Homo sapiens: one gene and its partners. The protein of the gene in region 1 purifies or fractionates together with the protein of each later gene. This does not show direct contact. Each region holds a gene or a part of one and is shown in the gene's direction. Other genes may lie near its edges.

What was found.
Region 2: the proteins of RPP25 (region 1) and RPP40 purify together in Homo sapiens (affinity purification with mass spectrometry; 5 studies listed by BioGRID and IntAct, with this or other methods). This does not show direct contact.
Region 3: the proteins of RPP25 (region 1) and RPP30 purify together in Homo sapiens (affinity purification with mass spectrometry; 4 studies listed by BioGRID and IntAct, with this or other methods). This does not show direct contact.
Region 4: the proteins of RPP25 (region 1) and RMP24 purify together in Homo sapiens (affinity purification with mass spectrometry; 3 studies listed by BioGRID and IntAct, with this or other methods). This does not show direct contact.

The regions. Positions count from the first base shown.
Region 1 is NC_000015.10:74,953,899-74,961,108, reverse strand, and holds RPP25 (ribonuclease P protein subunit p25), read left to right. Parts: upstream 1-4,336; 5' UTR 4,337-4,525; coding exon 4,526-5,125; 3' UTR 5,126-6,691; downstream 6,692-7,210. UniProt on the Homo sapiens protein: Component of ribonuclease P, a ribonucleoprotein complex that generates mature tRNA molecules by cleaving their 5'-ends. Also a component of the MRP ribonuclease complex, which cleaves pre-rRNA sequences.
Region 2 is NC_000006.12:5,001,038-5,008,795, reverse strand, and holds the start of RPP40 (ribonuclease P protein subunit p40), read left to right. Parts: upstream 1-4,758; 5' UTR 4,759-4,793; coding exon 4,794-4,916; exon of another isoform or gene 4,917-4,980; intron 4,981-6,550; coding exon 6,551-6,695; intron 6,696-7,758. UniProt on the Homo sapiens protein: Component of ribonuclease P, a ribonucleoprotein complex that generates mature tRNA molecules by cleaving their 5'-ends. Also a component of the MRP ribonuclease complex, which cleaves pre-rRNA sequences.
Region 3 is NC_000010.11:90,867,413-90,874,981, forward strand, and holds the start of RPP30 (ribonuclease P protein subunit p30), read left to right. Parts: upstream 1-4,561; 5' UTR 4,562-4,574; coding exon 4,575-4,656; intron 4,657-7,456; coding exon 7,457-7,512; intron 7,513-7,569. UniProt on the Homo sapiens protein: Component of ribonuclease P, a ribonucleoprotein complex that generates mature tRNA molecules by cleaving their 5'-ends. Also a component of the MRP ribonuclease complex, which cleaves pre-rRNA sequences.
Region 4 is NC_000018.10:35,967,782-35,975,696, forward strand, and holds the start of RMP24 (UPF0711 protein C18orf21), read left to right. Parts: upstream 1-4,897; 5' UTR 4,898-4,947; coding exon 4,948-5,024; exon of another isoform or gene 5,025-5,085; coding exon of another isoform or gene 5,086-5,103; coding exon 5,104-5,126; intron 5,127-7,114; coding exon 7,115-7,314; intron 7,315-7,915.

The DNA.
Region 1 (7,210 bases):
GGAGATTAAACACATCTGACCCAATGCTGGGCACTCGGTGGGTGCCTGCTAAATCTGAGTTCCCTCTGGCCCTGCTAATTTTCTTTTTTGTTGTTGTTGTTTTTGTTTTGTTTTGTTTTTGAGACGGAGTCTCGCTCTGTCGCCCAGGCTGGGGTGCAGTGGCACAATCTCGGCTCACTGTAAGCTCCGCCTCCCGGGTTCAGGCCATTCTCCTGCCTCAGCCTCCCGAGTAGCAGGGACTACAGGCGCCCACCACCACGCCCAGCTAATTTTTTGTATTTTTAGTAGAGACAGGGTTTCACTGTGTTAGCCAGGATGGTCTCGATCTCCTGACCTCGTGATCCGCCCGCCTCTGCCTCCCAAAGTGCTGGGATTACAGGAGTGAGCGACTGCGCCCGGCCTGGCCCTGCTAACTTTCTAATTCCTGACTCTACTTGCATGCTCCCAAGACCCTGCCCAAAGAGGCTGGGACTAGGATCAGGGGTTTTAAGAGCTCCTCATCCTCCTCCTGCAACAAGAGACAGAGGAGAGGGGCTGTACCAGCGATCCCCCTCCAGTGTGAACATGAGAGATTTGTCCACAGGAAGTAGGGTGTGCTGCTGGAAAGGTCCCAGGGAACCTTAACAGATATGTATTGGCTAGGCTTGGCCTCTAGCCCAGCTACCCCAACACCTCCTCCCAGGGTGAAAGGAGTCTAGCTTGCCACTCACCAGTTCACTGTGAGTGAAAACTGCTATTATTTCTGAGTCTTTCCCAATTTCTTTTCCTTTTCACCAGTTTTCTTTCCCCCAATCCCTTTACAATTTTTTTAAATTCACAAATAATATATGAAAAATAATAACAGCCAACATTTCCTGAGAACTTAGCAGCCAAGGTTCCAAGACGGCTGTGTCTCATAATCACTCTGTGAGGTAGATTACTATAATTAGCCCCATTTTACAGATGACAAAGCCAAAGCAAATGGGTTAAGTAAATTGTCCAAGGTCACACAGAGGCAGAAAGAAGCTAATAGAAGCTGAAGCTTCAGGGTCAGTAGCTCATTTATGCAAGCTGCTCCAAGACTCTGTATTCATATTTAATTGTCCTTTTCTTAAAGAAGGTAATGAAAACTTCATGCGGTAACAAGAGGTCAGTGTGCTGTTTTCTTGCAGATATTTTAAAAATACATTTACATCTATAAACACACACGGAAATAAATGCCCCCCTACTCTGTGTATGGCTGGCACCCAGCTCCTTTAACACAACGTCTTCACTGACTCCACTTTTCTAACCATTGTGTGGTGTGCACCACTGATGCTCTACTTTAAAATTTACCAGCCTTTCTGAAGTTGAGCCCTGTGCTCCCCTCCTCTGACTCTGGCCCCACCCTGGGGTTCCCACCCTCTTCTCAGCTTTTTCTCCCTTCGCCCTGTCCCCTACGCTGTTTCCCCCCTCATACAGCCCCTTTCCCTGTGTCCTCACTACTTCATGCCCCAATTCCTTCCTGCCTCTCGCGTTTCTCCTCTCTCCTCGCCACCCCGCCCCGTCCTTCACCGCCCACCCTGTTTTCCCCGCTCGCTGCCCGCTCTCTCCCACTCCAGCTTCCTCCAGGCCTGCCACATTACCCTAATTCACAGCACCCCATCCTTCCTCCCTCACTCCCCGCATCTCCCGCCCCCACCCCCTACACCCCTTCACGGCTAGGAGGGAGCGCACAGCCGGCGGGCTGCGACGCGCGCTGACAGTGTAATGAATGGCTTCAGCTGTAATTAGCGACCCCGCGGCTAATCACGATGTACATTTACATTTTAAGTGCTGCAGAGGGAGCGCGGGAAGGGGAGGGGACCGGCAGGAGGGAATGCGGCCCTTTTCGGCGTTCTCCCTTCACCGACTGTGGAGAGCAGTGAATGCGAGTCTTCTACATCCGACAGCAGTTTAGGAGGTTGGGGACGGCTGGGTCCTCGAGGGCCAACCTGGCCGGACGCAGAACCGCCCCGTCCTCGCCCTACACAAACCTGAAGCTCCCAGGACCCTTTCTCCAAATGACAGAACTCCGCCCAATCCCTTCCAAGTGATCGTGCAGCCCAAACTTGCATACTCCCGGGGACGGAGAGCTCGCTCCTTCCACAACCAGCCCGTTCCAACGTAACTTCCAGCCTTTCGGGGGCTTTTTCTCAGGGCCTGACCTTACACAGCCCTCGGTTCTCCACGCCCCGCTACGCGCTGCGGACAGTCTTTGTTTCTTCCCAAGGCTGCTGTGCCTCCAGCCCCCACCGCTGTGTGGGGCCCATGGAGACTGGACCGAGACCGAAGTCCCGGTTCGGAGCATACCCCGAGGGTTCCTGATCCCACCAGGAGACGGGGAGGGGGTCAGCCATTCACACATTGCGGTGCCAAGGTCCAGTCGCCGCAGCCACTCCCAGGAAGTGGTAAGAGGGTAAATCCCGGTTCTGAACAGCAGGGACCGAGGGCCGCTCCCAAGAAGTGACAAGGAAGTAAACCCTGGTTTTGAACAGCAGGGACTGAGAGCTGCTGCAGATGCCCAGAGGGCGAGAACAGCGGGAGGAGGGAGAACAGCATCTGGCAGCCCCATCTCCAACTGAGGCCCAGCAATCCAAGGCACTGTCATGCCCCCAGCACTTTCCCGGTGGCCCGCCCGCCCCAGCTCTCTGTGTCCCTCCCCGCCACGCCCCGTCACAGTCCCCTGGCTAGGACCAGATCTGCCGCCCTCTCTCAGTCCTGACTGCGTAGGGCGGGTGGAAGGAGGACGGGGGAATCCCGAGAGCAGTTTTAGGGAGGGTCGGGCCCCTTCTCAGACCCCCTCCCTTCCATCAGTAGTCCTGACAGCCCCCAATCTCATCTTTCTCTAATGCTTCTCTCACCCGGCAGGAGACCCCGGGCCTCTCTTTCGGTCCCGTGGAGTTTCCGCCGGAGAGGCATCCAGTAGTTCCATAATGCCCCCAGGGCTTCAACTCCCCATCTTCCTCCCTTCTTTCTCTCTTTTATTTTTTTTTAAGTCTTTTTAATTTTTGTGGGTATACAATAGGTGTCTATATTTAGAGGGTACATGAGACGTTTTGATACAGGCATGCAATGCATAATAATCACATCCTGGAGAATGGGGTATCCCTCCCTTCTCTTTTGTATTTTATTTAATTAATTAATTTATTCATTTTTCGAGACAGAGCTTTGCTCTGTCGCCCCGGCTGGAGTGCAGTGGCATGATCTCGGCTCACTGCAGCCTTCAGCTCCCGGGTTCAAGCGCTTGTCCTGCCTCAGCCTCCCGAGCAGCTAGGATTACAGGAGCGTGCCACAACGCCGAGCTGATTTTTGTACGTTTAATGGAGACGGGGTTTCACCATGTTGACCAGGCTGGTCTCGAACTCCTGACGTCAAGTAATCCGCCCACCTCTGCCTCCCAAAGTGCTGGGATTAAAAGCGTGAGACACCGCGCCCGGCCCCTCCCTTCTCTTTTTTAAAACCTGCGTTCACCTAGCCTCCTTTCGAAAAGGACCCCACTGGATCTCAAGGGGCCAATGTTGCCTGAGCGAATTCCGCCTGGGAGGAAGGGGGCGGCCACGTTGGCAAGGCATCGTGCCTGGCTCACCCTAAAGCGCGCAGCTCTAAGGGTGGGCTCTAGGGCCTGGGTGGAGCGAGCCTACCGCCTTTTCAGAAGAGGTCACGCCCGCTTCCCCACGCGCCTCGGGGAACAGCCTGGCCCAAAGCCTCACTCCTCACGTCCCAGGGGTGGACGGGGGTCCGGGAGCCTCGAGCTCCGGGCAGGCGTGGCGAGGCTGAAGTCTGGGTCTTCCGCGCCCCGCGAGGACCACGCCGCGACGTAATCGCCCGCGGGGAGGCGCGGAGTGGAGCCGCAGCCAGCTCCTCCCGCACTCTGCTGACCGCGCACTAGCTGTCCTTGAGGCAAGAATACTTGGGAGCGGAAAAAAGGTGGGGGTGTTCCCCGGGGCGGGGGAGGAGGGGCAAGGCCCCAGCAAGCCTCTTGGAAATCTCTCCCTGGGAGGGGACGAGGGGCGGCCTTCAGTTGCAAATGGGAAGGGCTCGGATACCGGATTTGAAGCAGTGTTTGCACGGCAAGCGCAGCTTTTATTTAGACTGCCGGTTTGTGAGGGTTGGCTCTCAGAGCGCTGATGGCGATTATAGTGGAACTTCACCTTCACCTGCTCATGCGCCCCGCAGCGCGCCCGCTCCCACGCCCGCGTAGCTGAGGACCCAGACTCGCCAGGAAAGGCTAGTGAGGCTGGGGCCCGGGCGGGCCCGGCCGGGCCGGGTCAGGGGAGGGGCCTGGCGGCAGGGGCGGGGCCTCAGCTAAAGGCGCGGAGCACCCGGCGCCGAGAGCGCTGAGTAGAGCGGCGCCCGCTCGAGAGAAGTGGGGCCGAGATCGCGCCGTCCCAGCCCGCCCGCCGGCGTCTGCGCTGCTCCGGCGCCCTTACCCCTGCTGGCCCTTGCAAGGCGCGACCGGCGGCCATGCAGCCCCGGGGCTGAGGCCGCCCCATGGCAAAGCCGGCGGTCCCGGCGACGACGGCGCATGGAGAACTTCCGTAAGGTGCGCTCCGAAGAGGCGCCAGCGGGGTGCGGGGCCGAGGGAGGCGGCCCGGGCTCCGGCCCCTTCGCAGACCTGGCGCCGGGCGCGGTGCACATGCGGGTCAAGGAAGGCAGCAAGATCCGGAACCTGATGGCCTTCGCCACCGCCAGCATGGCGCAGCCAGCCACGCGCGCCATCGTCTTCAGCGGCTGCGGCCGGGCCACCACCAAAACCGTCACGTGCGCCGAGATCCTCAAGCGCCGCCTGGCGGGCCTGCACCAGGTCACGCGGCTGCGCTACCGGAGCGTACGCGAGGTGTGGCAGAGCCTCCCGCCTGGGCCCACGCAGGGTCAGACGCCTGGCGAGCCGGCCGCTAGTCTCAGCGTACTTAAGAACGTGCCCGGCCTCGCCATCCTACTTTCCAAGGACGCGCTGGATCCGCGACAGCCCGGCTACCAGCCCCCGAATCCCCATCCTGGTCCCTCGTCCCCGCCAGCCGCGCCAGCGTCCAAGAGGAGCCTAGGGGAACCCGCAGCTGGAGAAGGCTCCGCGAAGCGATCGCAACCCGAGCCAGGGGTTGCGGACGAGGATCAGACGGCCTGAAACTCCGGACTGTGGGCCACCTAGTCCGGCAGGATCTTCCGCCAGCGCCTCCACCTTCAGATGTACCTCCAGCCTTTCACTCCTCGGTCCTCCGGAGCCCACAACCTGGACACAGCTCCTCAAGACAGGTAGCATGGACCTTAAGGCGACAAGAGAGGGGCCCCAGGAGTGGCAGGAGAGGATCCCCGACCACCCTAGGGAAACTTCGTGCGATAATTGCTGCTTATGCCCGTGTTGCGTGAAGACACGGAACTTCACCTTTTCTGGGACCTTCTTTGGGGGAGAATGGTGGACAGTGGGATTCTGGAAACTTGTTTGGGACCCCCAAGGGTTAAAGCCACCCAGCATTCACGAAGAGCACCTGAAGTATGGAAGCTGAGAAGAGTTATTGGAATCACCCCCACCGTTGACAGAGGAAGGCAGGGGGTGAGAATTAACTGCTTGAGGGTAGGAGAGTCTGAGATGTGGGGGCCCTATTCCGCTCCCCGCCCTGGGACAGTTTTCCTTTCTAGTTTTCTTTCCCCTGCTTCAGAGGAGCATCTCTGAGGGTTCTAGCTCTTTTAACACCCCTTTTCCCCCTGCTGGCCCAGAGGGAGACCCAGGACTGAACTCTCCAGGCCTCCTCCCCTGAGCCCTGCAGCTGGCTGGAGTCTTGCTTCCAATAAAACAAGCACAAAAATGGCTGTGTCCCCCATTTTTTTTCTAACCACCCGCCTGTGCAGAGACAGCTCTCGCCTGGCCCCTTGTGTCTCCCCTCCCCTCCAGCCTTGCGTCCTGAGTCTTTGGAGTCTTCAGGGTCAGGCACAGAGACTGAACAGCTTCAAAATGGTGCAAGGCACTGCCCAGTCCCTGGCTTCTTCCTCTCTCCTCCCCCACTCCGCCCTCCCGGGCTGGCCCTGGCCTCAGAGGCTGTTGCAAATGGGGGCCCGTGTACCCCTGTACATCGCCACTAAGGGAAAGGGAGCGGCACATTGTTTTTCTGGGAGGGGAAGGAAGGAGTGGAAGGACAGCATCGATGAACTCTCCTGGAGGTCACTGCAAAGGGTGGCAGACCCTGCTGAGGTCCCTGAATCTGCAGCCTCCAGACAATAAACTGAACCTTACCCAGAAGGCTGGCACAAAGCCCCCAGCTCTGTGGGTAGGATCTCCCCTTCACTGCCCTCTCTCTGAGAAAGGACAGCACACCCTTGGGAAAGGGGGAGGAGAGAGACTGAGCACAAATCCACTGCTGGAAATTACTATTCAGCAGAGAAGCTGGGTCTTGGGCTGTGAATCACTGCAGGCCTCCTGATAAGCTGCTGCCTCCAGCCCTGCACAGCTGTCTGTTGAGAGATAACAGCCTCATAAGCTTCTCTGCCCAACTCCAAGCCAGCTGGGGGGTGGGGGTGCTGCTGTGTGCTGGAAGAGCTCTGGTGAGTTGGGGGTGGCATACAGCCCCAGGATCTCAGAAGCAGATCTCATCCCATGCAACTCAGCAGCACCCCTGGAAAGGGGGAGATGCGGAAGAATGTATTTATAAGTCATTTTGCTGGCAGAACCCTGAAATAAATCCTGCTGGTGACAAGAGATACGTTCTGTGGCTGACTGGAGGGGCTCTTAGGGAGGTTTCCCTCCCCTGCAGTATCTCTGCTTGAGCTTTGGAGTGAGCTTTGTCATCCAGACTTTGTCCCTCGTTGCTCTCCCCAAATTCCTGCTCTTGATGAGTCCCTGGAGAGGGCCAAGGGGTTTGGGTTTGCTTGTCTGACCCTCTCAGGGGTGGCCCAAGAAGCATGGAAAGAATGTAAACTGTCCTGACAAGATGGCCTAGCTTCTCCTGGACTTCAGCATCTAAAGGCAGTGATAAAACTTGGACAAGGTCCTGCATGGTAGAAGCTTAAGGGAGACTGGTCTTGGTTCTGAAAAGGGTCCAACTTTCCAAGACAACAAGTGACTGATAGCCGGGTTACCAGGACTATGAAAGCAGGGCCTGAGGCCGGGCATGGTGGTTCATGCCTGTAATCCTGTAATCCCAGCACTTTGGGGGGCCAAGGCGGGCAAATCACGAGGTCAGGAGCTTGAGACCAGCCTGGCCAACATGGTGAAACC
Region 2 (7,758 bases), on another chromosome or scaffold:
CTGGGCTCAAGCAATCCTCCCACCTCAGCCTCCCAAAGTGTTAGGATTACAGGCATGAGCCACCATGCCTGGCCATGTTCTGCTTTTAAGGCATGACTTCATTTGTGCACCTCCGTACAGCGATATGGCCTATGGAGCTGCCATGGTTAATGTTTGTGTCCTTCACTGATCTCCACTCCAGTCACGGAGAGAGCAGCCCAGGAGAAAATGACACTGTCTAGTTCTTAGGTGGGTCATACATTCTTCTTGGGGGCTGTCTTAGTCCATTTGTGCTGCTATAAGGGAACATCATAAAATGGGTAACTTATAAACAACAGACTTTTCTTTCTCACAGTTGTGGAGGCTGGGAAGTCCAAGATCAAGGCACTGGCAGATTCAGTGTCTGGGGAGGGGCCGCTTTCTTGTTCATTAGATGGCATCTTCTCCCTCTGTCCTCATATAGAAGGAGGGGAAAGGCAGCTCTCTGAGGCTTCCTTTATAAGTGCATGAATCCCATTTCTAACCTCCCAAATGCCCTACCTCCTCATACCATCACATTGGTGATTGCATTTCAATACATGAGCTTTGGGGGAACACAAACATTCAGACCATAGCAGGGGCCATTATTATTATTATTATTATTTTATTATTATTTTTGAGATGGAGCCTCACTCTGTTGCCCAGGCTGGAATGCAGTGGCACCATCTCGGCTCAGTGCAACTGCCGCCTCCCGGGTTCAAGCAATTCTCCTGCCTCAGCCTCCTGAGTAGCTGGGATTACAGGCATGCGCCACCACACCCGGTTAACTTTTGTATTTTTCGTAGAGACAGAGTTTCACCATGTTGGCCAGACTGGTCTCGAACTCCTGACCTCAAGTGATCCACCCGCTTTGGCCTCCCAAAGTGCTGGGACTACAGGCATGAGCCACCGTGTGTGGCCCACAGGCCATTAATTTTCTCCATTGCAGCCATTGGTGCCAGTTTCCACTCTGCTGTCTGAGGGCAGTTTCAATCTGTAAGCCAACACCAGTTGATTTGTAGCAGCTGCCTAGAACCCTGTGCTGACAGGAACTGTGAGGTCAAGTTCAGGTTCAGCAGGAGGGCGGCCTCTGATTTAGCACAGTTGTCTGCAATAGATACATTTCCCTGCAGTCTGCTCCTAACTGTAAAGAGATGATGTTAAACAACTCCAGGGCAGTGCTAGGATCCTAATGAACATAACCTGATCACTCCCTGTGTTTCTGAGTCAGACAGCTGTCTCCTTTCACCAATACGGCCTGTATATGGTTATGATACATTTACAAGCACAGAAGTTTATGGACACTGTCATTGTGTTTTGGATTTGCACCCTGACCCAGGCATTAATTTATTTAAAAGAATATTTTAACATTGTCAAAGAGTTGAGCATCTTTAAATTGTTTCTTTCTCTGTTTTTTTTTTTTGTTGTTGTTTTTGTTTGTTTTTTTGAGACAGAGTCTCACTCTGTTGCCAGGCTGGAGTGCAGTGGCAAGATCTTGGCTCACTGTAACCTCCACCTCCCGGGTTCAAGTGATTCTCCTGCCTCAGCCTCCCAAGTAGCTGGGACTACAGGCGCATGCCACCACACCCAGCTAGTTTTTGTATTTTTAGTAGAGACAGGGTTTCACCATGTTGGCCAGGATGGTCTCGATCTCTTGACCTCGTGATCCACCCGCTTTGGCTTCCCAAAGTGCTGGGATTACAGGCATGAGCCACAGCACCCGGCCAATTCTGTTTCTGTTCTTTCTAACTTTATTGCATTATGGCCCGGAAATGGGATGTGTAAAATTTTTGTCCTTTTATATTTACTAAGTCTATATTTTTTTGTTTTCAGAATATGATCAAAGATATTTCTATTTCTTTGCAAGTCTATTAGCTCAGATTTTTCAAAATTATGTTACTATTTTGGGTATACATATAGATATGTTTTGTTTCATGTGCTTTTTTTTTTTTTTAACCATTTCTGGCTTTTCCATCTTGCACTTTTCCTTCCATACCCTGTGCTCTAGATTCTATGATCTAATATCTGTTTGTCAGTTAAGACTGCTTTCAGCTCTAGAGACCAGAAAATCTGACAGACAGAGTGTGAATAAGCAAGGGAAGGAGATGAGGCTGAAGAGGCAGGCTCAGGCCAATGTGTAAGCTTTTATTCCATCACAGTGAGAAGCCAGTGGTAGGGTCTAAATGGGGCTGTGGGGGTATATTATGTTTTTCATGTTTTTAAGAGATCACTCTGGATGCTGAGTGGAGAATGGACTGTGGGAGGGCAAGAGAGGCAGCAAGGAGAAGGTTTGGAGGCAGTCTTGGGCAGCAGGCCAGTAAGTGACGAAGGTGGCTGAAACTGGCTGTAGAAACGCAGAGAGCAAGAAGAGGCTGCAATCAGGATGCGTGCTGCAGGCAGGGCCACAAGACTTACTGTGGGATTGCATGGCGGGTGAGAAGGGAAGAAGTCAGGGGTGAGTCCTTGTACTAGAGTCATCTGGATACTCCGCTCAGGGAAGAGGCGCCACATCTAGGGGTTATCAGCAGCCAGAGAGGAGGACTTAAAGCTGCAAGACTCTGTGGGGTCTCTCTTGAGAAGAGGGCAGTTTATATCTCTCAATACATTTTTCAGCTGATATTTACATAGATAGAATTTATTTTGCATCTTCAAAATATGCAACATTTTAAACTAAATGGTTTGCTGGAAAAGCTTCACGGTGCTTCCAAATACAATTGGTAGACCATCAGGATCACACCAGTCACTTTGTGGAGTTTTGGAATGTCGACAAAGGAGAGGTACATCCGTGATGTTTCAGTCTTGGGCCACTGCTACCACACACAAAGCAACTGTCTGGTGACAATTACATTAAATATGAGGTGACCAAGAAGCAATGCTTTAAGCCTTTTACATCTTAACATGTTATTAGTAGCTGTTATTTATAAAACATCTAGCTGCCATATTGTGATCTAGGAAATTAGTAGGGTTTTTTTTAATTAACTTGCCACGCCTTATAATTCTGCTGTTTAAAATAATGGGAAACAGGTTCTCATTAGGTTTTTCCTTGGAAAGAAAATGTGACATTTCAGTCATAGATTACATTTTGACTTTTTTTTTTTTTTTGAGACAGAGTCTCACTCTGTCGCCCAGCCTAGAAGTGCAGTGGCGAGATCTTGACTCACTGCAACCTCTGCCTCCCAGGTTCGAGTGATTCTTCTGCCTCAGCCTCTTGAGTAGCTGGGATTACAGGCATGCGCCACCACACCCTGTTAATTTTTGTATTTTTAGTAGAAAGCGTTTCACCATGTTGGCCAGGGTGGTCTTGAACTCCTGACCTCAGGCGATCTGCTCGCCTCGGCCTCCCAAATTGCTGGGACTACAGGCGTGAGCCACAGCACTCAGCCAGATTACCGATGTTTTTAGTGGCAGATGACTTTCCGGCCTTGTCTTAGTTTTAATTTTTTTTTTTGAGATGGGGTCTTACTATATTGTCCAGGGTGGTCGTGAACTTCTGAGTTCAAGTGATCCTCCCACCTCAGCCTCCCAAAGTGCTGGGACTACAGGCGTGAGCCACTGTGCTCGGCCAGATTACTGATGTTTATAATGGCAGATGACTTTCCAGCCTTGTCTTAGTTTTATTTTTATTTTTGGAGATGGGGTCTCACTATATTGCCCAGGCTGGTCTTGAACTCCTAAGCTCAAGTGATCCTCCCACCTCAGCCTCCCAAAGTGCTGGGATTACAGGCATGACCCACTGTGACTGGCTTAGTTTTAAATTCTTAATTATTTACCTTGTAAACTACTTAATTCCATTTCTTCCACATCTCATAGAAAAACTGATGTTCCAGGAAGATGTATCACCAATATTCTGCTGTTTTGTATCCTGCCAGTGCAGAATTGGGGCTGTGCCTCTCTAGTTTGAGAAGCATGTAGTAACATACTTGATTTTGCCCTGATCAGTAACGTACCGCATGCTGGGAGCCGCAGTCTCTTAACCGCTCCAAGCCCGTGACAGAAAAACGAAATGGAAAAATGACTTAGGAGAATTATCACTATTAACCCCCAGAAACAACACATTATTAAAAGCGGTTCTGAAGGGCTATTTAAAAGGGAACTCAATAGTAGTTTCAAAGGAGTCCTATTGTAAGGCAAAAATTGTGCTTTACCTTCCCGCACAACCTTCCCTAATGTTTTGGGAAGGACTGATACAAACTTTTAGTCCTGTTGGCCTGTGTTAATAATGGCCAAGAGGTCCCCAATGGGTAACAGAGTCCTGTGAACCAAACAGTGTGAGAAGTCAGAAAGCAGCTGGGTGTGGCCCCCAAAGCAGCTTAGGGGGTTACTTAACTGTGCGGCTACATTTCTTGACCATATACTAAAGGAACTGGGCCTTTCCATGCGATGTTTTCCTTTTATAACGGTGGCAGGAAGCGGTCCCTCTGAGGGGCCTGACCGAGGTATGCGCCGGCGCCAGGCTGGGGTCCAAGGGGCGCTCCGAGGCGGGGCCCACAGAGAGGGTTTAGGGCAATTCCAAGGGATGGCGGGGACGGAGGAAAAGTGGCGTTGAAAAGGCAAGAGCCAGGTTCCCAGCCACTGGGACAGTGAATTTACAGCTTCAGACATCCACCAAAGAGCGGCTGCGTGGGCTCCTAAGAAGTCTAAGAACTGCTCAGAAATCCAGCGCCGCCATCCCCACTCCACCGCCGCCAGGGGCGCACAGCAGCGGGTATGCGGCCGGAGGGAAGGGGCGGGGCGGGAGGAAGGGGCGGGGCGTGCCCCGCCAGCGGAGGCCGGGAGGACCAGGAACCCAGGAGAGCATGGCCACGCTGCGCCGGCTTCGGGAGGCGCCGCGGCACTTACTGGTTTGCGAGAAATCCAACTTCGGCAACCACAAGTCGCGCCACCGGCATCTTGTGCAGACGCACTACTATAACTACAGGGTGAGTCCGGCTGTCCTCGGCTTTTCGGGCCGTGCTCAGTCCCCGCGTGCGAGAGAGGTTTGGGGAGAGTGCTAGGCTTCGCGGGGCGGGGCCGCCGGCGGTACGCGGAGGGGCGGGGCCCTCGCCCGGCTTGCTGGGAGTTGTAGTCTCTTAACTGCTCTAAGCCAGTGGCTTGCAGGGCTACAGGACTACAACTCCCAGGATGCGCCGGGCGTGGGGGCGGTACCCAGTCTGGAGGGAGCTGTTGTCAGGGGCGTTCTGGCTGCTCACTCGTGTCAACCCGCCGAACTGGGAGTGAGTCCAGGGAGGGATTCGAGGTTCAGGGCCGGGACCAGGGAGTTAGGCTGTGGGGCAGCCACGTGCACCTCGCTTTTTCCCCAAATCAGGGCGGGTCTCGCGCCTCCTCCCCACCACTGCCTCCTCCCCAGCTTGAATCCCTCTCCCACCTGCGTACCTGTGGATCTCACCAGAGCATCCTGCCTAGGCTCGGCCCAGGAAGCGACTGATTTTCCTTTTTTTTTTTTTTTTTTTTTTAGACGGAGTTTCGCTCTGTCGCCCAGGCTGGAGTGCAGTGGCGCGATCTCGGCTCACTGCAGGCTCCGCCTCCCGGGTTCACGCCATTCTCCTGCCTCAGCCTCCCGTGTAGCTGGGTCTACAGGCGCGCGCCACCACGCCCGGCTAATTTTTGTATTTTTAGTAGAGACGAGGTTTCACCGTGTTAGCCAGGATGGTCTCGATCTCCTGACCTCGTGATCCGCCCGTCTCGGCCTCCCAAAGTGCTGGGATTACAGGCGTGAGCCACCGCGCCCGGCCGAAGCGACTGATTTTCTAAATTGGTTGTTGGAACTAATTTGATATCTGAGAGACTTCAAGAAACTAACCTTATCATGGGGGATTAAACATTTTACACTTTAAATGGATCAGCTTAATAACTCAGGTTTGACTGAGCAGTGTTTCAGAGATGTTAAGTGGTGACCTGATCAGTCAGAACAGGCTGGTGTTTGAGCCTTGGGACAGTGATGACTTTTACAATGTGGCAACATTTGAAGCCTGCCCTGTTTTTAACACCTATTTTGGATGTCAAGCTCATCACAGCAGTCAGGGATGTATACTTTAACTCGCCTGTTGCATTTTTCTGTCTCGAAAATGAAAACATACAGGAGCACCATTGCTTGCACATAGATTCTTAGTAATTGGATGTCCATAAATTAATTCCTTATGCCCCGACAGATAGTTTGTTTCATTCCAGGATAACACCAGGGTAAACAAATCAAGGGATATTCAATTATACTATATTTCCTTGAAAATAAAATAGTGAAAGGAACAGGACATAAAATATACAGCATTGCTAATTTGCAAAAGATTAAATGCAAGCACGAGTTTTCCATTAAAAGTATTCTGTTCAATCCCCTTCCTGTACTGTACGTTTGAATGCAGAAATGAAAAACTTAAGTAGTCAGATTTCTCTTTGCCTGAGATAGGTAAGTTAACATAAGAGTTTTGTTGCCCGTGTTTTTATGTTCCAGTGAAACTCGTGGAGAAATAACAACTTTCATGATTTTGTTTCATTCCTAAAAACCTGGGTGTTCATCTTCATGGAAGTAAGACCTTGTTTGTATTACACATTCCAATAGGTTTCATTTCTCATTCCTGAATGTGGGATACTATCGGAAGAACTGAAAAACCTGGTCATGAACACTGGACCCTATTACTTTGTGAAGAATTTACCTCTTCATGAATTAATTACACCTGAATTCATCAGTACCTTTATAAAGAAAGGTAAGAAAAACCTGAAATGGCTGTGAACAAGGCTGGATGAGGAAGGGTAGGGAGACCACATCACGATGCTAGGGCTGTTGTTTTGTTTCAAACAGGGCCTGTGGTATAGTCTGTGTGGTCAGGTGCACACGCGTTCTCCCCCGCATTCTCATCCTGTTCTTTCTTGTACCCTCTTTAGGTGGTGGTTTCTGATTGCAATTGGCCACAAGTGTTGGATGGGGATGTTGTAACATGACAGTATCCGTCCCCTTAAAATGAGGATTAATGGAGAGGAGAGACTTGCAGTCTGTGTTCAGATGCACTGCTGTTGAAGATGTGGCTGCAAAGACACTATGCTGTCAGCAGTCCCACAGCAGCTGTCTCAGAGGGTTGGTCTCCCGATACAGCCACAGCTACTGTTCACAGAGCAAAGTGCTTGTTGGGGTCCAGTGTCTTCTGCTTAGATTTTGTAGCCATAACCCCTCCTCTACTCACCCCATTTCCACCCATATCTGCTGGGTTGGACTGGTTTGTTTCAGTTGATTCCTGGGAGCCATTTGTTTGAAACTATTTCAGAGGGCCTTTAGGGATTCCACCCACACTACATAACTCACCTGTACAGTGGCCACATGCTTATCTTGTGGTAGCCCCCATGTGTGTCCTCTCCAGTGAAGATATGAAGAACTCTAGTTACCAGTAGCTCCTCTCATTCTGACACTGCTGGGGCGACTTATGAGCTGGGCATCTTGTCTGGTCTCATCACCGTTATTCCTTTCATCTATTTCAAGGCCTGACACCACTCTGTGAATTACGTGGACAATGGCTGTAGCAGGCACTGTTAAATGTCTTACCAAATTTAACCCTTGCAACAACTTTATGAAGCAAGCCTATGATCCTCATTTAACAGTGAGGAAACTGAGGCTTGGAGAGGTTGGGTAGCTTTTGAATCTTAACCTGGAACTCTGTCTCTGAGAGGTGTATGTTTATCTAGAATTCTACTTTGGACCCCTCTCCGCGCATCCCCAAAGGTCACGTTCCGTTCTGAGTCAGTTTTTTGCTTGATGATAGTAAACTTGCACAAATA
Region 3 (7,569 bases), on another chromosome or scaffold:
ACAATTCTGTTGATATGGGAACAAAGTCAAACAAGAGGCCATGAGTTCATTTATTCAATCAGTTACTTTTGGCTGAGTACCACCTACTTTGTGCCAGCTCTGGATATACCCTCAACACCCTAGATCTCTGTCTCATGTATGTTCCTCTTCCACTTCCATGTGTCAAAATTTAATTCAAGCATTACTCCCTCAAGGAAACTGCCATTTTTTCCCTTCAGATCTCCCAAACTTCCCTCTCAATCTGGGAGATAAATCTCTGCTTTGTGCTCCCAATACATCTGGCTAAATCATTTTATAATATGGTTTTCTTGCCTGGCTCCCCCTCGGCCTTAAGCTGCAAGAGGACAGGGGTTGGGTGGAGCATTTTTCAGTTCACTCAGGAGGGGTGAATGGAATAAACTTAGGATAAGGCCAAAGACTAATCAAGCACACACCCAAGCCCACACACAGCCCAGAAAAGAGAGCTCTTCTGGGAGGATGAGAAGGGCTCAATGATTGCGTTGGATGTGAAAAACCATCCTCTTTTTCTAGGCTTCCCGCAGAAGAAGAAATGACTCAAGAGCCATCCTATCTGAGCCCAGGACTTCTCCTTGATATAATGGGAATAACAATATCTCTCTCATTGGCTATTGTAAGGATCAAATCAGATAACTGATGTAAAATGCTTATCATAATTATACAGTACTTTTTTTTTTTTTTTGAGACGGAGTTTCACTCTTGTTGCCCAGGCTGGAGTGTAATGGTGCAATCTCTGCTCACTGTAACCTCTGCCTCCCAGGTTCAAGAAATTCTACTGCCTCAGCCTCCCAAGTAGCTAGGATTTTTAAGAGACAGGTCTCATTCTGTCACCCACACCAGGGTGCAGTGGTGCAATCCATAGCTCATTGTATAATAACATGGAACTCCTGGGCTCAAGGGATCCTCCCACCTCAGCCTCCCCAGTAATTCAGACTACAGGTGTGTGCCACCACTTCTGGCTAATTTATTTTTTGTAGAGACAGGGTCTCACTTTGTTGCCCACGCTAGTCGTGAATTGGCTTCAAGTGATTCTCCTGCCTCAGCCTCCCAAAGTGCTGGGATTACAGGTGTGAGCCACTGCTACCAGTCTTAAACAGTACTATTATCTTCCAGTCAGAAATTTCTATGGTCTTCTTCAAGGTGCAGATACTTGTTGCCACAGCCATCCCTTCAGGCCAACTTCTGACCCCTCTTCCCTGTTCATCTCCCCTATTCTGTCTTGTCTTTTTCTTCTCTCCACTTCTCTCTCCCCTCTTCCACTTCTTTCCTTTCCTTCCTTCTCCCTTCCTACTTCTCCTTTCCTCTACTCTCCTTCTCTCCTCTCTGGTCTCCCTTCTCTTCTTTTCTCTTCTTCTCCTCCTCCCTCCCAAACAACTCTAGTCTCTGCTTGCTTTGCTCAGGAAGCAGTACACTAGGCAAGAACTGAAACAAATTGCCTCCATCCACATGTAGTTCTACCACTAATAATGCCTTAGTTTTCTCAGATATAAAAAATGGATATTGATTTTAAAAACAAAATAACAAAAAGTAAAAAACAGTACTTCTGCAAGTCTAGATCTGAAAACAGTAATAAAACAAAAATAAAAAACAGCATTTAACACACAGCTGCTTTGAAAATAAGATACATACATAAGTACTTAGCAAATTCGCTGGCCCTCAGTATAGTGCTAAATACTGATTGTTATCTATTCCTATTCTTTCTTACCTCTTCTCTTCCTCTTCACCCAGGCTTAGGGTGCAGAGAAGAAAAGAAGTTTATATGGTACAGTCCACAGCAAAAGTTCTGTGACTTTCAAAGAAGCCCACTTTAGTCTCATACTAGCATCAGATAATTAAACAGTCTCCTAGCCACAGCAATTAGGCAAGAAAAAGAAATAAAAGACATCCAAATTGGAAAGGAGGAACTCAAATCATTACTGTTTGCAGACAACATGATCTTATACATGGAAAACCCTAAAGGCTCCCCCAAAAAAACTCCACCATTTAAAACTAGCAAGTAAATTCAGTGAAGTTGCAGGATACAAAATTGACATACAAAAAAACAGTAGCATTCTGTATGCTAATAGGGAACTATCTAAAAAGATCAAGAAAACAATTCCATTTACAATAGCTACAAAAAAAGATACCTAGGAATAAACTTAACCAAGAAGGTGAAAGATCTGTACAATAAAAAAAATTAAGGAAATAAAGATGACACAAATAAGTGAAAAGATATCCCATGTTCATGAACTGAAATAATATTGTTGAAGTAGACATACTATCCAGAACGATCTACAGATTCCATGCAATCCCTATGAAAATACCAATGACATTCCTCACAGAAATATTTTTTAAAATCCTGAAGTTTGTGTGGAACCACGAAAGTCCTCAAACAGCAAGAGCAGTCCTGAGCAAAAAGAGCAAAGCTGGAGATATCACAAAGCCTGACTTAAAAATATGCTACAAAGCTATAGTACCCAAAACAGCATGGTACTGGCAGAAAAACAGACACATAGACCAATAATGTAACAGAATAGAGAGACCAAAAATAAATGCATGCACCTATAGCCAACTGATTGGTATTGAGGGAGGGATTGAGGGAGGAGGATGGGGAGAGGTTGGTCAACAGGTACAAAGTTAGATAGGAGGAATAAGTTCTGATGTTGTATTGCACACAAGGTGACTATGGTTAACAGTAAGGTATTGTTTATATATCACGAAACAGCTAGAAGAGTTTTTTTTAATGTTATCACCAAAAATGCATGAGGTGATGAATATGCTAATTACCTTGATTTGTTCATTATACAACATATACATGTATCAGAACATGAAATTGTACCCTATAAATATGTATAATTACAATGTGTCAACTAAAAATGAAAAAATAATTGAACTATCACCTTATTCACCTTCACCACACATTGGTCATATTTCTGACCAATCTAGATTGTTATGGTCATAGGTGATGATGCCTGTGTGACCCTGCAAAATTAACACTAGATATTCTCATGAAAAACAAAGCGTTTGCTTCATATGACCTTATTCTATTTGCAGAAGTAATATTCTCTTCTACTCCCACTTAGGAAATATCAAGTACTGGAAAAGGCAAAATATCTCTTCTTTACAAAAGTTAACCAAGAAGAGAATTGCATGCTACTGCATGGAACAGATCCTTCCTCCCTTCTGAGACCGACAAGAAAATCGCATAAAGGAGTACTAGTTAAGGTGTGGTCCATAGACGAGAGACTATCTGTGAACTGTTTGTGATCAGTAAATAAGAGAAATTGATGGGTGAAGCATGTGGGTGGGCTCCTGTAATCACAGCTAGGAGAGAGGATTGCTTGCGTTAGAGTCCATCCTGGTCAATAACGAGATACTCTCTCTAAAAACAAAACAAAACGAAACGAAAACTCAGCAGGCCACCAACTAGGATACTCCCTAGGTCAAATGACCGAGCCTCTAATTCTGTGATTGTTGTTGCTGTGCGCACGTTAATAAAACAAACAAACAAACAAAAAGTGAAGATGTTTAGAAAGTTTACAGTACTTTGGCATTGTCCTGATAATCCAAGCTCCTGATCAGCAGATTCTATTCAGCCAGGTATAGGGCAGTTCGAGTGTTGTCAAATTTGTGATTCCCATGAGGCCAGGCTGCTTACTGGTAATGCATAAAGGACCACATCCTGGTTCGCGAAGAGTTTGGGGGTAGAGGAAAAGGAGGGAGAAACTGATCCTTCATCACAGGTAGTTTGAGAGCACTGATGTAAACTATAGTCACACTTTTGTAGTATAATTGATTATTATCCTCAATAGATCATTTACACTAAGTCGGAAAAAAGTGGAAACATCAGATATGTGGGATATGCGTCACCTTGTACATTTCTCAGCTGGAAAAGTGTAAAACATCTCAATTTTGCACCTCCCTTTTCAAACATGTCTTTGGCTAAATCAATGTTGGCTCTAACCGCTCGTCCTAGAGCGAGTCCCGCCATCTTGTGGTTGAAGATGTTGACTGCCACAGAGAATAGCGGGCTTTGACATCAACAGTTCTGATTGGGTAAAAAGACCCTCGTCTTGGGGTAGTTCTCTTTTGAAGTCCTAGAGTCCGTCACACACAAACGCCTTCTTCCCGGTAAGTCCATTGTAAACAACGGAATGGACTTTAGGGAAAGGAAAGGAAAACGTGTTCTTTAAGACTCTTTAAATAGCGTTTTCACCCATTAGCAGAATTCTCTGATTCATGAGCAGCACTAAGTAGATACCGTGTGCGTGCATTTTGAATGAATTCATTTCTACACTATTTTATAGGAGTATTGAATAGTTGGGAATTGGAACCCCTCCAGGGGGAACCAAACATTGTCGTTCAGAAGAAGACAAAGAGAGATTGAAATGAAGCTGTTGATTTCAACACACAAATTCTGGTGGTAGATGAAAGCAAAGCAAGTAAGTTTCTCCGAATCCCTAGTCAACTGGAGGTAGAGACGGACTGCGCAGGTTAACTACAGCTCCCAGCATGCCTGAGGGGCGGGCTCAGCGGCTGCGCAGACTGGCGCGCGCGGACGGTCATGGGACTTCAGCATGGCGGTGTTTGCAGATTTGGACCTGCGAGCGGGTTCTGACCTGAAGGCTCTGCGCGGACTTGTGGAGACAGCCGCTCACCGTGAGTTGCCCCGGCTTCGCGCCTGGCCAACCTCATGCCACCCAGACCATCGGGCCACACTCCGGAGTAACTATTTCCTGATGGGTCTCGGTCAGGTCTCCCAGAGTCTCTGGGATGTCCCTGGAGGCTGATGCCCGCCGAGGTGTTGGTCTGATTCCTAGCGCGGGAAACTCGAAGGTTCTGGGGGTTGTTATCTGGTTCAGCTACTTTCCTGCAATGAGGGAACTGAGGCCTAACGAGGGCGAGGGATTTGCATAGGGGCCTACAGCTGATAGGTGACAGAAGCCGGAGCTGGACTCCAAGGGTACAATCTTCTAAGCTTCTAAGTTACTATCAGCCCTTCCTGATTCTCACGACAGTGTCTAAACAAATACTGGAATTTGGGGCACGGACAGGAAGCGCCGTGGAGGCTCGGAGAAGGAGGAGGACGTGGGAGTGTTGGAACAATACTATCTAGACAGAGAGAGGGTAGGTGGGGGCAGAGGACATACACAGCGGAGTGGAGGTGGAGGAGGAGGATAGCATGGCCCAAATCGAAGGGAAGCGAAAGCCTTGAGAGACGAGAACCTGTTTTAACTATTGGAGTTAGTCATGGGTTCTGTATTCCGTAGACTGTAAAGTGTTGGAATAGAGAGATTAAAAAGAATCAAGAGGTTCGTGTAGTAACATCTGCTCCTCAGAGACAGTTTTCAGCTCATTGTGAGTTCTGATTACTGATACTGTTCAGAGGTGGTGCTAGAAATGACAACCACTTCTTGGCAAAGTGAATCACACCACTTTTTTATTGTTCTCTTTATGAAGTATCCGTGGCGAAATGACTGTCCCTTTCCACTGCTGCCACTAAATGAACGTTATCTCTGTGGTACTTTGCTCATCAGCACGAAGACGAAAGTAGACATGATGATCTGGGCCATTTGGCGCTAATGTTCTTTGATCCTGTAAAATAAGTTTTCCTAGGTGTAGTTTGTCGCAATTATTACCTCCTCAATGAGGCTTTTCCTGACGCCATCCCATTTTTGAATAAATCATGAGCTTCCTAAGAGAATTGCCATGTCTTATCCTTTTATTTACTGTGCTTAACACGTTCACTCTGCAGGCACCAGTACATGGCAGTTACTCAGTTAATGCTTGTGGAATAAACTGAACACATTAAAAAAATTAATACAAAAAAGAAAAGTTAATAATGATTTCTTTAGAGAATTTCCCCCAGTTTAAAATACACTTGGAAGAGGTGTGGTAATATATGTACATTGTTAGTGGTTATTTGTTTGTAAATTAAATGGAATTCATGGCATATAAAGTTGCCTCAACTTACAAGTCAAAGACAAAGGACTGCTCTGCTATTTGATGAGTCTGGAACTAAATAGTGGACATTTGCAAAGAATAGGAAAGACAGAGCCCTGGTTCTCAGTTTCTGATGTGATACAAGAAACCAATAATAAGCTTCAGAAATATACTGTGTAAATTAAAATACCCTAAAGCCTGATTGGGGAAGTAAGTACTCCTAAGCTGCCAGATGAGGAGTAGTCTAGGAAAAAGTTTTGTGGAGAAACAGATCCTAGTTGACATTTCTGTAGAACGGTAGGGACATTGTTTAGTAGCCAAAAGGATATCCTAAATGGGTATAACAAGGAAGTTTAGAGCAGATTTGGGAGTGTGGTAAAGAAGAATAGGGAGGAGGTGTGGCTGGTTGATTTGACTAACTGGGTGCAAGGTGAAGCCCAAGGTACAGGCATACTTGTGATTTTTTTTTTGTTTTTAAGGGTAACTTTCTTCAGGGAGCCTTTTGTGACCCCTACACCAGGTTTCACTGTGCTATGTACTTCCATAGAATCCTTACTTATAAAAAACATGTATTTATATACAATGACTTGCTTAATTGCCTTATTTGCCTTCGTTCTCCAACAGACTAGGCTGTAAATTTCTTGTGGAGAAGGATTATATTATTTATCCTGTATGCTCAACACCAGTTTAGGGCTTGTCAAGTAATGGATGCTCAGTAAATATTTGAGGGAGGAAGGGAAGAAGGAAGTTGGACAAACTGTTGAGAGTTTGGCATTGATATGTATTTTAATGTTAATATCCTTTCATCCCCATTGGTATTTTTAAAAATTAAAGATGGGAGTCATGATTTAGATTTTTTTTTGGTAGCCCAAATGTCCAGAACAGTGCTAACTGATGAGGATAATAAAGCAAGCCCTTGACCTCAAGGAGCTCCCAGTCTGTCGATGGTGTGCAGCTTAAAATGGGAAGCGGGCAGTGGTGTGAGGGAGTTATCACTCCATTTCTCCTTAGGAAAGGAGTCTCTGAAGGAAGTAGAAGGATAAAAAGCAAAAGAAATGAACGGGAATAAAAGTGACAGTGATAAAGTAGGAACTTGATGGGATAAAAATGAATATAGGGTCATGAAAGAGAATGACATTTGAAAAGGAGAAGCACAAAGTTAAGAGTCTTTAGTATCATTTTAATAATAATTCATAATGGTTAAACAAAGACCTGTGTGCCAGGCACTGTTCTCAAACACCTCATGTGTATTATTTCATTTAAATTTCATGACAGTGTATGAAGAAAGTGTTGTTATTTTCACCATTTGACAGATGAGGAACCTGAAACTTCATGTTAAGTAACTTGTAAGTGGTAGTGCATAGACTTTAAATCAGGCAGACTGACACTAGAGTTCACATTCATAACCACTCCTCAAATGTCCTCCTACTCTTGACATCTAGACTCAGGATGGACCTGTGTTACAGGAAGGAGAGGTTGTTATATTTAACAAAAGTGTTCAATTTTTCTTTTTCAGTTGGCTATTCAGTTGTTGCTATCAATCATATCGTTGACTTTAAGGAAAAGAAACAGGTAAAATAATATTTCTAAAGTTAATAAGTTCATAAATAAGTATTTGTAATTCTGTTT
Region 4 (7,915 bases), on another chromosome or scaffold:
TAGCAAAACCCCGTCTCTACCAAAAATTTTAAAAAATTAGCCGGGCATGGTGGTGCATGCCTGTAGTCCCAACTACTCGGGAGGCTGAGGCAGGAGAATCACTTGAACCTGGGAGGCGGAGGTTGCAGTGAGCAGAGATCACGCCACTGCACTCTAGCCTGGACAACAGAGCTTAAAAAAAAAAAAATCATAGGGGGTTAAAGTGGGTTTTTCTTGCTGTCTTCTGTTCCAGTGGAGGATCACAGAACTGGTTGAGCCAGATTACGAAGCACTGATCTTAGATTTTACAACAGTGATGTTATTATCCCCAGGAGCAATTTGAGGAGGATCAGAATCTTGCAGCCTCCAGCTGCATGGCTCCTAAACCATAATTTCTAATCTTGTAGCTAATTTGTTAGTCCTACAAAGGCAGCCTGGTCCCCAGGCAAGAACGGGTTTTGTTTTGGGAAAGAGCTGATATCATCTTTATTTCAAAGTCAAACTATAAAGGGCTGTTACAAAGTTAAACTATAAACTAAGTTCCTCCCAAAATTAGTTCAGCCAATTCCTGGGAATGAACAAGGACAGCTTAGAGGTTAGAAGCAAGATGGAGTTGGTTAGGTCAGATCTCTTTCACGCTAATCATTTCACTGTTAATTTTTGCAAAGGCAGTTTCAATTGGACTGGGAGAGATAAAAGAGGAAGCAGGAAACGAATGCAGAGGGCCATAGCAGGGGTGCAGGCAAGAGAAGAGGGTGGCTGTGGTGGTGCAGAGAAGCGGGCAGTCATGATTTACTTCTGATGAAGAGCCAGCAGGACCTGAGGACAGACCAGCTGCAAGCCGTGGGAAGGAAGAAGCAGCACTGTAACATGTCCATAATGGCCCCAACGCCCAAGCTGGAAGGTTGTGGGTTTACAGGAATGAGGGCAAGCAACACCTGGCCCGCCCAGGGCGGAAAACCGCTTAAAGGAATTCTTAAGACACAAACAAAAGCATGAGCGATCTGTGTCTTAAGGGCATGTTCCTGCTGCAATTAATTCAGCCCATCCCTTCCTTTCCCATAGGGGACTTTTAGTTAATTTAATATCTATAGAAACAATGCTAATGACTGGTTTGCTGTTAATAAATATGTGGGTAAATCTCTGTTCAGGGCTCTCAGCTCTGAAGGCTGTGAGACCCCTGATTTCCCACTTCACACCTCTATATTTCTGTGCGTGTGTCTTTAATTCCTCTAGCGCCACTGGGGTCTCAGCACATGCACACATATTGGATTTCATTTTCACATTTTCCCTCTTTCTGCTTTATTAGTGACCTAGAAACAGATACAACTATGTAAAAAACAAAACAAAACAGAACTTCTATATGGTGTAGTGGCATTTCTCCTATGCCATGGTGGTGTTGTGAGGATTAAATAAATTAATACACGTTAAGATGCTTAGAAAAGTGCCTGGCACATATACAGTGCTCATTGCATATTATTTTTATTTCAATTCAAATGGAAAAAGACTAGTTTACCTAGCATGGGGCTTTTGTATAACTTACTATCCATTTTGAAAAAATGTCAGATGCTCTTACATTTAAGTGAAAATACATTTCATATCAATTAAATATGTGCATGGAAGAAATCATACTAGAAAAGTATGAGAAAAACATCTGATTAGCCAGGTGCAGTGGCTCACACCTATAATCCCAGCACTTTGGGAGGCCAAGGCAGGTGGATCATGTGGTCAGGAGATAGAGACCATCCCAGCCAACATGATGAAACCCTGTCTCTACTAAAAATACAAAAATTAGCTAGGCATGGTGGTGCATGCCTGTTATCCCAGCTACTCGGGAGGCTGAGGCAGGAGAATCGCTTGAACCAGGGAGTCGGAGGTTGCAGGGAACCAAGATCGCACCACTGCACTCCAGCCTGGCAACAGAGTGAGACTCTGTCTCAAACAAACAAACAAAAAAATCTAATTGAATAGTTAGTTGCCTAACTTTGACAAAGCAGGACTTTTTAGACCACACAGAAAACCCAGATCCAATAATGAAAAGAGTGACTTGTTTGATCACATACAAAATTTTGTAATGTTAAAAAGTTATAAATTATGCCAAAGATAAGGAAGAAGAAAATATTGCATCACATATGACAAGCAGAAAGTGAATTTCACCAAAATAAAAGATCTTCTAAAAACTGATAATCCAACAAGAGATTTCTCTTCATAAGAGAAAATGCAAACCATCAAGGGATAAATGAAAAGAGGATTTGCCTTTCACCTATCTAATTTGACCCAGCCTTCTTAGTCATTGATGCTGGGAATATGAATTGCTACAACCTTTTCTGGATGATCTGGCATATAAAAAATGTGCATATTATTCTACCCAGTAATTTATCTTTTAGGAATTCAGACAAAAGAAATAAAACCACCAGTACTGTATTAACTAGCAAAGCACGAATTTTTTTCCAAATGAACATCAATAGGAAAATAAAATATGGTTATTTATTAAATAAATTAAATTATGTTTCATTACATTTTGTAATATGTTCAGCTATTTAAAAGCATGTACTAACTTGAAAAGATGTCTGTGGCCTGCTGTTAAGGAAAAAAGACAAGTTATACAGTAAGGAACTAACATTTTACTTTTGGTTTTGGTTTTGTGTGTGTGTTTGGTTTGTTTCTTTTTGTTGTGGTCGTGGTAAGTGGTGGGGGGTAGCATATTTATACACGTACTTAAGTGTATAAGGACATAGGTAGAGGAGACACCCAATTATTCATGTTGATCGCCTCAGAGAAGTGGGATGGAAAGGTGGGAAGAGCAGGGAAAATAACTTTTCTTCGGAAAAAGTTAAAATGCCTATAGAGATGTAAATATATACTTTCTCTTTACAAATCTTTATATAATTTAGCCCCCCGCCTCCCGCCTTTTTTTTTTTTTTTTTTTTTTTTAGACGGAGTCTCGCTCTGTCGCCCAGGCTGGAGTGCAGTGGCTGTGATCTCGGTTCACTGCAACCTCCGCCTCCTGGGTTCAAGCGATTCCTGTGCCTCAGCCTCCCAAGTAGCTGGAACTACAGGCGCATGCCGCCACACCTGGCTAAATTTTTGTATTTTAGTAGAGACAGGGTTTCACCGTGTTGCCCAGGCTGGTCGCCGACTCCTGAGATCAGGCAATCCACCCGCTTTGCCCTCCCCAAGTGCTGGAATTACAGGCGTGAGCCACTGCGCCTAGCCAATTTAGCTCCCTTTTAAAATTAAAAATGGGCTGGGCATAGTGTCTCATACCTGTGATCCTAACACTATGGGAGGCTGAGGTGGGAGGATCACTTGAGCCCAGGAGTTCAAGACCAGCCTGGGCAATATAGTGAGACGCCCATCTCTACCAAAATAATAATAATAATAACAACAACAACAACAACAACAACAATACCTACGCATGGTAGTGTGCCTGGTTCCCAGCTACTAGGGAGGCTGAGGCAAGAGAACCCTTTAACCCAGCCCAGGAATTCAAGAATGCAGTGAACTGTGATCACACGACTGCACTCCAGCCTGAGCAACAGAGTGAGATCCCATCTCAGATAAATAAATAAAGCAGGCTAAATAAGGGTCCACTATCCAGAACATACACATTAAAAGAACCTTACAACTTATCAACAAAAAGACAACTCCAATAAAAAATGAGCAAAGAACTTAAACAGCCAAAGATACATAAATTGCCAACAAGCACATGAAAAGCTGCTCAAAAGCATCAGTAGTCAGGGAAATGTTAATCAAAACCACAATGAGATGCTACATCATACTCACTAGGAAGGCTAGATTTAAAAAAAAAAGAAAAAGAAAAGCAAATGTTGGTGAGGATACGGAGAAACTGGAACCCTCATTAAGCACAGAATTACTACATAACCCAGCAGATCTACTCTTAGGTATTATACCCCGAAGAACAGAAAAAAGGCACTCAAACAAATGCATGTACACACATGTTCACAGCGGCATTCATTCATAACAGCCAAAAAGTAGAAACAATTCAAACGTTCAACTGATGAATGGATAAACCATTGTGATACCGCCATACAATGGAATATTATTCAGCCATAACAACGAATGAAGTACTGATACGTGCTGCAAGGTGGATGAACCTGATACATTATGCTAGGTGAAGGAAGCCAGACACAAAAGGTCGTGTGTATGATTCCATTTACATGAAATGCCCAGAATAGGTAAATCCATAGAGACAGAAAGCGGACTGGTGGTTGCCAAGGCCTGGGAGGGAGAGGAGGATTGGCCGTAAGTGCTTCATGGAGTTGGCTGTCCTTCGGCGAAATATTTTGGAAATAGCAGAATGGTGCTTGCACAACATTGTAAATTTACTAAACGCCACTGAATTGTTCACCTTAAAATGGTCAATATTACGTTATGTGAATTTCACTTTAATTACAAAAAGAGAAACGCTAGCGTTTACGCAGGCGGAGGGCAGGCTGGACTGGGGACGCTCCTCCCGGCCGCCTCGTTGCTGGCAGCGCTTCCGCCCGCCGGCGCACCAGTCAGTACCGCGCCCGGCGAATGTGGAGGGCGAAGCTGCGGCAGGGCAATCACAAAAGGGCTGTCAGAGAGGAGGCGAGGCGGGAGGAAGATGGAGAGGCGGGTGGGAGCCTCACCTTTGGACTCTATCGCCACAGCCCGGTCTAGCCGCTACGCCCGAGCTCAAGTCTGACTCGAAACTCCGCTGGGTGCCTGAGAGGACCCGGCAGGCCAAGGGGTGGAACTGAGGGGGCGGGGACGCGGCGGGCGGGTGGGGCCGCCTCCCGGCTGGGCACGCCTCCAAGCCAGACTGGACGCGAAGGAAACCGGAACCTGTCTGCCTACGGTGCCTGTTTCCGGAAGCAGCTTGAGTCCGGACACCAACGACGGGGACGCTGGGAAGCCGACTTCCGGCGCCCTATTTTCTCACCTGGTTCCCGCGGCGAGCCAGCGGCAGCGGCGGCGGCGATGAGACAGAAGCACTACCTTGAGGCTGCAGCGCGGGGACTGCACGACAGCTGCCCGGGCCAAGCCCGCTACCTCCTGTAAGAGGACTGGAGGGGAAGCGGGAGGCGAGCGGGTAGGTGTTCCTTTGCTCCTCACAAGTCTCTTTCTCTTTTACAGCTGGGCCTACACTTCGTCGCACGGTAAGAAGAACGCCTGTCTCTTGTGCTTTGGGCTCTTGTCGCCCCGCTTTCCTCTGTTCCGCACAACGCTCAAATAAGGCCGATGGACTCACTTCCCTCCATAAAAACAACAACAACAAAGCCCGCATGTGTCTCGGTTTCGTGAAAAATCCAAATTCTTTAATGTGCCTTGTCTTGCTTTGTTAGCGGCATTTGACACATTGATCAGTCTTGAAATAGTTTCCTCCCTTGGCTTCTAGGTCATTACGTAGTTCACCTCTTCATTTATTACTTCTCGATTTGCTTTGCTGGTTCCTCCTAATCTCCCCAAGCTTTAAGTATTGTCGTGGCCCAGTACTCAGCCCTTGGACCTCTTTTCTAGGCACACTCGCTTCCTTGGTGACAGTTTTTCATCCAATCTCATGGCTTTTAAATACCATATACTGAGGACTTACAAATGTATATACTCAGCGCAGACCTCTCCTCTGAATTCTAGACTCATATATCCGAATGTCTTCTTGACAAATTCTTTTCAATGTCTAGTAATTCAAACTTAGCTAATATGTCCAAAACCTGAGCTTTAACCCCCAACAAGATCCTCCAGTTTTTCTCATTTCAGTAAATAATTCCATTCTTCCCTTACAGTTATTGAGCCCAAAAACCTTGGAGCTATTCTTGACTCCCTAACTCTCTCTCCTCCCCCAGGCCAGTATGCGAGCAAATCCTGTTGGCTTTAAAATGTAGCCAAAATCAGCCAGGAGCGGTGGCTCACCCCTGTAATCCCAGCACTTTGAGATGCAGAGGCGGGCGGATCATTTGAGGCCAGGAGTTCGAGACCAACCTGGCCAACATGGCGAAACGCTGTCTCTACTAAAAATACAAAAAAATTACCTGGCATGGTGGTGCACGCCTGTAATCCCAGCTACTCGAGAGGGTGAGGCATGAGAATCTCTTGAACCCGGGAGGTGGAGGTTGCAGTGAGCGGAGATGGCGCCATTGCACTCCACTCCTCACCACATCCATTGCTACTACCCTGCTCCAGGCCATCACCAGCTCTCTCCTGGATTAATAAAAGTGAAAGTCCTTTAAAAGGATTGTAAGGCCCTGTGTCATAGACCTGCATACCTCTCTGACGTACTCTTTCCTTCACGCAACTCCAGTCACACTAGGTCTCCTTGCTTTTCTGTTTCAGGGCCTTTGCAGGTACTCTTCACTCTGCCTGGGATTCTTGCCTCACATATCTGCTTTCATGTGAATCCTCCATTTCCCTCTGGTCTCTATAATATCACTCAATGAAGCTTTCCCTAGCCACCTATTTAAAATTACAGTAACTCCATCAATACTTCTATTCCCCCCTCCTATCTTACTTTTTTATTCCCAGCACTTAACATTTGACGTTGTTATATTTATTGTATGCCTCGGTGAATTGTCCTTTGTTCACTGCTGTGTCTCCAGCACTTAGAACAGTGCCTGGCATTCTTAATTGTCACTTAGTGAATATGAATGAGTTTCACATTTGGCAGAGCTAAGTTTAAGTGTGGTCTTTAGCTTTATAAGTGCTGTTGCATCCCTGGCACTTAGCACAGTGCTCAACAGTAGATACTATTCATTGTGCTAATTATTTAAAAAAAGAAACAAAATCGCAGTGCAATTTGTTATTTTGTGGTAAATGCATTGGTAAAATTGGTGAAACATAACAGCCTTTTAAAACTTAGTAGCAAGTAATGAGAAGTGGCTAGATTTAGGATATATTTTAAAGCCTACAGGATTTGCTAGCATAGGTTGGAGATTTGCCTATCTGTTGCTGAAAGGAGTGAATGGATGGAATTGTAGTATTTTGCAAGGTAAATTACTGCCAATTTATCTTTTTGTAAATTTTCATATTTTGAGTTTACTTAATGTGTATCTGCTTATATTAAATTTCAATATACTTTTTATAAATGTTGACAGTTTGAGGTAACAAAATATTCTGATTTGCTGAATTGTGAGTTTCATTTGTATAATTTTAGATGATAAGAGCACTTTTGAAGAAACGTGTCCATACTGTTTCCAGCTGTTGGTTCTGGATAACTCTCGAGTGCGTCTCAAACCCAAAGCCAGGTTGACACCCAAAATACAGAAACTTCTTAATCGAGAAGCGAGAAACTATACACTCAGTTTTAAAGAAGCAAAAATGGTGAAAAAGTTCAAAGACTCCAAAAGTGTATTGGTAAGATTTCAGTTCCAGTATGTATGAGTAAACTAGAATTTTCTTTTCTTTCACTTAAAATCAGTTTAAGAATCAGCCTCAGTATAACTCAGAGATTTATAGTAGTATATTTGGATTATCAAAATATATACATAAACACTTCTCTAATGATTAGTGTTTCATTATAAGGACAGCTTACTTTTATTTTTCATGATTACCTAAACCAAACATGGTGAGCTCTCAATTGTTTTGAGATCCCATTGTTGAGCATTATTTTTCACAAATGTGCGGATTTCTTGAACTGACCGTTATGGCTCCACCTAAATTGCAGTTACCACTACATTATTTTTTCAGTTAATGCTCCTTTGCTTCAGATAGTACTATGTTATGTATGTAGGTATCATGTCACTTCTTCAGCTGTCCTCCCACTCCATGTCAGAGTGGATTTACAGGTATGCCCAACAAAGGTGAATGCATCTTTTGTTCTTTCAACATTTTATTGAGGGTCTATCATATGCCAAGCAACATTTAATATTGGGGATATAAGATGGAATAAAACAACCAAAATCAGATTACGTACGGTTTACTATATGGAGGCCAGTAGCAAATACACTTTATATCC